Linked DNA regions of Homo sapiens. The protein of the gene in region 1 interacts with the protein of each later gene in a pairwise test. Each region holds a gene or a part of one and is shown on either strand. Other genes may lie near its edges.

Region 1 (5,167 bases):
TTAGGAGAAAAACAGGCCCTGACCTTTCCCACAGATAGCTCCCCAGACCTGGTTCGCGTGGTTCTCTAGCCTGATCCTGGAGCCTCTCATACTGACCGTGGCACCTGGCCCAGGGCTGCTCCTCATCATGGCTGAGAAAACAAAGGCAGAAAGCCAGTCAGTAGGGAGGACTGTGGAGACAGCCACAAGGCAGGAGCTGGGTGAGGCACAAATCCAGCCCCCAAAGCCTTGGGCCAGCTCCTCAGCCTCTTGGGAGACAGCTGGTCCTGTGCTCACTCCCCTTCACTGACACCTGCTCTGCCTCTGACGCCATCTAAACAAAGGAGACATCCCCACGCAGCACCAATAAACAAGCCCCTGGAAGTTGCCACACACTGTGGCAAGAGTCCAGAGCCTGGGCTGGGCACATGCCCTCTGCCCATCTGTACATTCAAATCCTACTGGGCCCTCACAGCACAGCCCTCACACTGCCGGCTCCATGGTACTTCCCCCAACCCAACTAAACCTGTGCTGCCCCTGTGCGTGGCATATTCATCCCTGTGACCTTCTCTGTGCCAGGGTGGCTGATAAGCCAGAACAGTCCTGACTGTGGAGTCAGGGGTCTGGCCATCCCCATCCCACCATCACAGGCCTTACTCCTGGGAAAGACGCCACAAACACCTGCTGCACACACAGAAGGGTCAGGCCTTGCCATTGGAGGTGATTGGATTAACAATTTTATTCTGCATCCACTACAAAAGGGCTGGTGTTTTGTTCCAAATGTTTAGCTGGGAGGGCTGTAGGGACCCCTGTTACCCCCATTAAACACAGTAAAGCATGGATCCAGTCAGCCCCCTGCTGGCAGGTGTGGGCCTGGCAACTACACAGATCCAACCCCACCCTCCTGGGTGCGGCCAGAGGCCAAGGCAGTCGCCCGAGCTCCTGAATCCCAAGAATGGTTCTGGCAAGTACTGCTGTTTGTTTGTAGGGGCAAAGAGTTAAAATAAAACGAGGTTCTGCCATGGCTAAGCCTTGTGGAAACCAGACCCCAAAGCCCCTGCCATGCCAGGGGTCTCAACGCCAGACGCTTGTTATGGAGGCACCAGCAGGTAGTGGCCCCTGTAAGCAGGGCCAGAGTCGGGACAAAGAGCAGGAGTGAAGCAGCCAAGAGACAGAGGACCAGGCTGGAGCCAGTGGGCACGCAGGAGCCTGCCTGGGAAAAGCCGGGGGGCAAGGCTGGCATGGGAATGAACACCTGCTGGTGACACCTCTCTGAGCTTCAGTTCCCTTAACTAGAAAAATAGAACAGGCCCGGTGCGGTGGCTCATACCTGTAATCCCAGCACTTTGGGAGGCTGAGGCGGGTGGATCATGAGGTCAGGAGATCAAGACCACCCTGGCCGACATGGCGAAACCCTGTCTCTACTAAAATACAAAAAGTTAGCTGGGCGTGGTGGCGTGCACCTGTAGTCCCAGCTACTCAGAAGGCTGAGGCAGAGAATCACTTGAAACTGGCAGGCGGAGGTTGCAGTGAGCAGAGATCACACCACTGCACTCCAGCCTGGCAACACAGCGAGACTCCGTCTCAAAAAAGAAAAAGAAAAACAGAACAAACATCGACCTCAGGGGCGGCTGCTGGGAATGTCAACAGGAGCGTGTGAGACTCCTGGCAGTCCCAGCCAGAGCTTTCCTTTGGAGCCTGCCCAGGGCACAGAGGTGGCAGGGTGGCTAACGGTGTGCAGACCGCTCACTGAGCAAGCCTTTCCCTTGTGTAGGACACCCCAGGGCCTCACATTCTCTGAATCCACACAAGGTGATGGATGGCTTTGCCTCTTGTAAATGAGAAAACTGAGGTTCAGAGAAGGTTTGTAAGCTTGTCCCGTGTCACCAGCTGGTGAGGGAGCCTGAACACGGAAGCCATGCCTGCCTGACTGGGAAAGCTGGGCTCCTCACAGCACTGCCCTGCTCCCAGCTGTCGCCAGGGGCCCCAGGGCAGGCAGAGCAACTGCGTTCCCGTGGCAGCACCTCCACCTGGAGGGGCTGGGCAGGGAGCACCACACTGTCAACTTGGAACAAACTTTTATTTTGAATGCTGGTCTGATCAGTCCACGGCCAGGGGTAGGTGGTAACTAGAAACAGCTGGAAGGAGGGAAGGAGAGGGGACCAGCAGTCCGCAAGCAGGAGGAAAGGAAAGGGTTGGGGACAGGAGGAGGCAAGGCTGAGGAAGGACCCAGCCAGCTGGGTGTCTGCCCCGGCTAGAGAACGAACCACCCCCACCCACCAGCCTACCCTCCATCTGTGGCTTCAGTGCAGAAGTCAGTCCAGGTGGGTTCAGGCCCATGCCACCTTCTCTGGCCTGCACAGTCCCACCCCAGGCAGGGGTTCTTCCAGAAGGCTAAATGCTCTGTCCTAACCCTGGAAGTGTCCTTTCACTAACCCCTGCCTGCCCGCCCCACGCTCCAGTTGGGTCTTTCAAACCTGGAGCTCAGGCCTTCACTACTGTGCTCCTGTAGCAGCCACAGGGGTGGCGTGGTGGGGAAGATGGGGTTCTAGTCTCAGCCTGGCTCAGGGAAGATGGGGTTCTAGTCTCAGCCTGGCTCAGGGGAACATCCCTCCACCCCTCCAACAGGAGGTGCTACAAAACATGATCCTGAGCAGACCCAGACCCCCTTCTGGTAACCAGTGCCTGAGGCCCAACAAGAAGCGGGGTGATGGGAGGCTCCAGGCCGGGCAGATCAGCGAAAGCTGAGGGCAGCCAGGGCCGGCCCAGGCAAACGCAGGATTGTCTCCAAGGGGAAACCCACCAGCTGTCTTTGGGTTGGTGGCAAGGGTCAGGGTCAGGGCCCGAGATGGGGAGAGTCCTATAATCCCATCGCCATTCCCCTCCACATGTCTCCAGGTTACAACCAGAGAGCTTTTGGCATGACCTGAATCTGTGGGCTTAAAGGGAAAAAGGAGGAGAGAGAGAAAAGGGAAGCCACTACTTTCTCCCTGTTAAAATGCCCAAGTCCTAGACTGGGGGTTCCTGCTCTGGCAGCAGCAGACACCAAATCCCAGAAGCCCCTCCACCCGGTCTGGCTCCATGGAAGGTGCCCCTGAGTGCCAAGAGGAGCAGCAAGATAGGGAGGGCGGCTCCTTCCCCTCCTGACATCCCCTGACCGCCCCGAGGATTCTCAGAGACAGATACGCAGGCAGACAGCCATGGAGGAGAAAAGAGAGGTTGACAGGGCCCTGGGGGTGGCACTCCTGCACCACACACACACACACACACACACACACACACACACACACAATAGAGAGAGACAGAGACATATAATAAACAGAATAAAAACTAAGGGCCCAGATGTACAAAAAATGTGTGAGTGAGGAAGAAGGTGGGGAGGACAGTGAGAGATGGTCAGTCCTCCGGAAGTCTGGCTACCTTCGTCAGCTTATAAATTACAACCCCCCTGGAAAATGGGGGTGGGGGCAATGCGGAGGCTCCGGCTGTGGCCTGAGCGGGAGGGCTGGGTGGCGGTCATAGCTGCTCTGCCCATCTGGTGGAGTGGTGGCCAGAGATGATGACCCCTTGGGTGGTGAGGGTGGGCCAGGGGAAGGTTCAGCAGCCGCTGGCAGGAGTCACACAGGCCCCCTGGGACTTCACCTTGTGGCGCTGGCCCCCTCGTCGCCGGCCTCCACTGCTGGGCTTAGGCTGAAAGAGAGAGAAGGAGCTTGAGAAGCACTGGCCCATCAGGAGCAGGGCCAGAGAGCAGAGGTGCTGAGCAGCGGGGAGACAGGGACGGAAGATGCGTGAGCAGGCTGCGTGGTCCTCACCCTAGCCTGACCAGGAATTTACTGGGTCACTCTGCATGCAGCACCTCCCCTCTGTCTCTAAAATGGAGCCAGTGCCTGCCCTGCCTTCCTTACAGGGTGGGTAGGACACACATGATGAGGGTGTGAGAAGCGGCCGTTCAGAGAAGCACAAAGCAGAGCAGGAGAGAGAGAAAGGAAGCGAACGAACCAGAGGAAAGACCCATGGGAGACAGATAACAGAATGGACAGACAGATCCAGGCATAGCCTCCTTTTCCAATGAGGGGACAATGGAGAAAGATGCTGGGGAGAGGGGTGCAAGGGGCACCAGGCCTTCATCACGCCAGGAGAGAGTGCCTGTGGGAGACAGCTGGCAGGAGATGCCGAGTAAGAGGCGCACTGGCACATCCCAAAGCCACCTCCCCTTCAGGATGTGTGCACGTCAGGGAGGGGACAGAGGAGGACCCTCTAAGGCAGTGTCTCTCAAACCTGCTGGACTGCAGTGCACACATATATCACTTGGACACTCACACCAGCAATACTTGCAATACTTAATCTTACTATGAAAGGGAAGCTTCGACATTTTTCTGTTCTATTTTATTTCATTAAAACCAAATGCTAGTTAGGGCCAATTAAACTGGTTTCAGGTGGGCTGTATTCCCTGATTTGGAAGCACTGCCTTATAGCTTCTAGAGACAAATGCCTCATTCTTAGGAGCACTTCAGTGCCAGAGCTGTGGAGGAGACCCTCTAGCCAGGTTTGAGGCTTGCCTACATGTCACCCTCACCGAATCAGAGTAAAAGCCACAGCCCCCACCACCATGCCGAAGCTGCGAGGGGCCCGTGCTCACCTGAGGCTGGAGATTGCTGGACGCAGCTGGTTGCCCTGCCCCTACAGAGGAGGCTTCATCTCCAGGTGGGGGTGCTCCTACTGCTGGCCCACCAGACGGGCCCCCCTCGTCTCGTTTCGTCAGGGGGCCCTTTTTCGTCGACTGCATTTTAATCTGCTGCGGCTTGGAGTTCATTGGGGAGTTGTTGGTGGTCTGGAGGAGCTGTGGGAGCCATGGAGAGAGGCTGAGGCTGGAGCTGCGGGGCAGTGGCACTGGCTTGGCTACCCCCCACCCTCAGCCCCCTTCTCCCACAGACTCCTCATTCCTTGATCTTGCCAGTTCAGGGCAAGGCAGATGGCAGGAAGGCTGTGACAGGAGGCAGTGGGGATGAAGAGGCATTCTCATCCCCACTCAGTGGCTGAGGACTGCTATGGCCCTGGACTCATGCCTCACTTCCTGCCTCTGCCCAGCCCAGAAAGGCTCCATCCTGTTCTCTGCTGCAGCTACTATTCCTGCAGAGAAATTGGTGAACCTTGCTCCCACCTCCCGCTCAGTCCAGCCCCCAGAGCC
Region 2 (4,008 bases), on another chromosome or scaffold:
GCTTGAATTTTCTCCAGATATTTAATGCAAGATGCAATGTAGCCATATTCCATGAAATGTGGTTAGCAGTAGGGGAGTTGTAGCCCTATCGAATCAAAGTATTACAATACAGCTGAAAGCTTTATATAGACGTATTTCGGTTCTTAATTGCACTAATGCAGACAGTTTGATAGATAAGCTTCTCTCTTGTGCTTTTTCTACTTTGGGAGGTTATATACTTTAGATGAGAGACAAAGAAACTCTACTGGTTTAAGAGTTCTCAGTTTTACTTTTACTATAGACCTTTTTTCCCACCAGTTTAGATGGGAAGACCCAGCCTTTGGTATAAATAACTTACTTCCACAAAAATATTTAAAGGGTATCTTTAGTGTTCACTGTCAGTTGTGTAGTCTTTTGGTAAGGGGGTGGCTAGAGCCTCTTTACTCTCAGTAAGTGCTCTGGGCTGATGGATAAACACACTAAATTTAACACCCTGGTTGTTTGCAGCTCTGACAAAACCACTATTAGCAGTCATTGTGATGGCTTTTAGGGTGTCTCCCGTCCCAAAAATTGTTAATGAGCGGCTATTAATTTTTGAACTGGCCACTAGTCTCAAGGCACGCTCAGAAGGCTGGTCTGGTACCACATTAATTCGCTTAATTAACACAGTGGCCCTCTCTCTCTCCCCAGGTCCTCCTAAGGTATCTAAAATAGACTGAAAGTCCTTGACAGCAGATTCACAAGCAAACAACTCCTTGTCCTTCATAAAGGCCTCCAGCTGAGGTAGAACCTGCTCTTTCCTCTCTTGCTCTGCTTGTTCTGTGAGCACTTTCTCTTTGAAAATAAAGTGGCAGCCTCCATAGCTGAGGGCAGATACATATGTGATTAAAGTAGTAATGTCCAGATTTACTCTTTTGCACACATCGACCTTAATTTCTGTTGGAAACGCAACACTTGCTAGTATATTTTCTCGGTCAACTCTGGTCACCTGCAAAAGTTCAGGGCCCTCATCATCTGATTCACTCTCACTTGGTTGAAGCTCTTCAGGGTGATCTAACAGAGCGTTGACTGCTACTATGTCTCCTCTCACAGATATGCCCATTTCTTTCAGCTTCTCTGCCATGGGGCTGGAGACACTGTTGTAAAATGCAAAGATGATGTGAGGGTTGCTATACTGCACTGGCTGCTGGTGACTGGCCTGGAGGAAGTCTTCAGCCTGCTCAATGATGCTTTTGTCACCATATTGGCCCCTGCCCAGCCAGATGTTATGAAGAGCTTCAGCCTTCCGGCCAATGGCTTTCACCCAAGTATGACCACCATTTGCAACTACATCTACCACAAGGGTTTGCTTTTCTCCTAAGGTATCTGTATAACCAAAGACATGAAGAACACTAACAACTTCTTCCAGGTTTTCTGCTGATTCCACAATGGCTCTCAGGTGTGTTAGGTTAGTGCTCTGTAAATGAGACTCTTTAATAGCTACTTTCCCAGCTTCTACTTTCTGCAAGAATTTTAATTCTGCCTTCAATTTGCTGCACAGCTTTGCACCACCTTCTATGCCACCTTTTCTTGATCTAGAAAGTGATTCTGCTCTCTTGATCAGTTCCTTGGCTATGGCGATTCGTTCACAGAGCATGGAATGTGCAGACATGCTGTCAGCATTATTCCTTTCCTAGGGAAAGAAACAAGGCAAACTTCAGTAGTCTCCTAAAATTATGACAATCAATTCTTCACTGGTGATTAAAAACTTCAATCTAGCAACACAGCTTATGGAGGGTGAGTCTATGAACCCGGGCTTGTGTATGTCTCATTCTGGAGTGACTGCTTCCTCTGATAGCTAAGGAAAGGATGGCAGCTACACTTTTGAACTCTTCTTTAGGTACGTCTGACACACTTTAGACCTTCATTTCTTCAGCTTGAAAGCCATGGGGACACAGCATGGTCCTAGGTTAGGATACAATGCAAGAGTTGGGCAATCTGCTATATAAATAATTCCCTTATGTCTATCAGCGGCCTGTTTAACTGCTGAGAAATTTTAATAAAGGCGACAAAAATGCCGAAAACAAAAATACACACAGACTGGCTAGTTAGCAAACTGTCCAAAGCAAGTGTCTGTCCTAAACTGAGCACTTCAGCCTCCCTAACCTTTTCCTCCTTCCCGAGTTGGTCTCCTTCAACCGGCTGCCTCATGATTTCCCCCGAGGCTTGGGGTACTTACGCCAAAAAAAATCAACACTGCCTCATTTCTGCATTTGACGTCAACCCAGACTATTTTAAAAGACCGAAGAAGACCACCAACTTGCGTCCCACTCCCACTCCGACTCTGAAGGAAAATCCGAAGATGAAACTAAACTCCAAGGCTGCAACCCGCGGCGGCCGTGCAAGCGGCCCCAGCGCAGGTCGCCGGGTGGGCGGGCCAGAGGCCGGCGGGGCCTTCTCGGTGGGCTGCGGGGCCCTCGGCCCTGCCCGGCCACCTGCACAGCCGGGCCCTGCCAGGAGGGGCCGGGGCCGAAAAGCCCCCACCGCCAGCGCCGCGGCTCAGGGACCAGGCGCTGATAGCGCGCGGCCGACCCCCTTCCCGCCGGGCCGGCCCTGCCCAGCCCCCTCTGGCCTCAGAAGAGGCGCCCCGCTCCCAGCCTCCCCGCCTCGCTCCCCGGCTCCTCACCGGCAGCGCCAGAACCGCGAGCGCGAGCACGCAGGCGCGTGCACGCAGAGGCCGGGACCCGCCGGGAAATCTCAACCGGGCAGCCCCCACCCCGCTCGAACGCCGAGGCGGCTCCACCCGCGCGAGCCCCGCCGCCTCGGGCACCTCCTGCATCACGTGGTTCCGGGCCGGGTGACGCCAAACCTGCGATTCCCAAGCGGCAGCGCGGCCTCCCGAGCCGGGTTGACGCTGGCGTGGCGGCCATGTTTATTGAGGGCACCTGGCTTCTCCCGCTTGCGCCGCCGGGTGAGCCTGAAGGCGCGCACCCACCTGGCTCCAGGAAGAGGGACCGAGCTCGCGTGCTGGGCCTCACTCCCACTGGGGGCGTCGGCCACTCGATCGCAACCGGGTCGTAGGCATTTTGGGGGCTCATTTTAACAGAAGAAACGCTGGAGAAGCTTGTCAGAGGTGACAGCTGAGAAGTACTGCCTCTGGGACTTCTGCCTCCAAGCCAAAGCACTTTCCACTGCATTGTCCTGGGCCCTCCAAAGAAAGTGTGCTGTCCTTCTGAAGAGAAGAAATGATTGCATGGCTTCCGAGGGGCTGCCATATTCATATTACTGTAGTAGAGTGTCCAGAGTCACCCAGAAAGATTAGGGCTGTAAGAAAGTAAAGCTAATTTAAAATATTAAAGAGGACTTCCAGTTATAATTAATCCTGTGTATCCTGCTCCTTCTCCAAACTTAACAGTAAAGCAATGCTCCTTCTCCAAATAACAGTAAAGCAATGACAAAGGGAACAAACAAAGGCAAAAAGAACAAGAGAAGAGATGACTGCAGACCGGTTATACCAACACATTTTTGGAGGACAAGAGCAATAACTTATTCAGTCCTTACAGCGTGACAGACATTGTTCTAAGTGTTTTACACATTGTTCACTCCTTTAAACAACCTAAAAGGTAGAGATATTAAGTATGCTTTACAGATAAGTGAGCCATAGGGAGGTTACCTGAACCCAAGCACCCTCTTTGCAGATGGTGTCAGGAGAACTGAGCAAACTGCTTGTAGAAGGGGATATTTAGCCACTGATTCACAAAGCAGAACCCCAGAAAGCTTCAGGTGCCTTGAAGGTAGAAGGGAGGGCAGTAAATTGTTCAGGCAGAAGACTAGTTTAAGATGCTAAAGACAGGGCATCAGAGGGATTCCAGACACAAAGCCTAACAAAGGATGAGAGGTGCCATGATGTTTTCCTACTGAATAGTGCAATGCTAGCAGCCCCCTTCTCTGCCCCTCCCATAATGCAGGCACCCCTCTACCGCTCCCTACCACTATCTCCCCATAACCCTATTTTTCTCTGAAGAAATGAGTAGACAAAAGACCCTAGAG

Evidence for each region. The genes of interacting proteins can lie anywhere in the genome.
Region 2: the proteins of GTPBP1 (region 1) and C7orf25 interact in binary tests that used the Homo sapiens proteins (3 or more experiments, as listed by UniProt).

What each region holds. Positions count from the first base shown.
Region 1 is NC_000022.11:38,729,114-38,734,280, reverse strand, and holds the end of GTPBP1 (GTP-binding protein 1), read right to left. Parts: intron 4,820-5,167; coding exon 4,619-4,819; intron 3,670-4,618; coding exon 3,577-3,669; 3' UTR 694-3,576; downstream 1-693. UniProt on the Homo sapiens protein: Promotes degradation of target mRNA species. Plays a role in the regulation of circadian mRNA stability. Binds GTP and has GTPase activity.
Region 2 is NC_000007.14:42,909,271-42,913,278, forward strand, and holds C7orf25 (UPF0415 protein C7orf25), read right to left. Parts: upstream 2,801-4,008; 5' UTR 2,645-2,800; intron 2,574-2,644; exon of another isoform or gene 2,198-2,573; intron 1,924-2,197; exon of another isoform or gene 1,791-1,923; coding exon of another isoform or gene 1,770-1,790; intron 1,652-1,769; coding exon of another isoform or gene 1,631-1,651; coding exon 365-1,630; 3' UTR 3-364; downstream 1-2.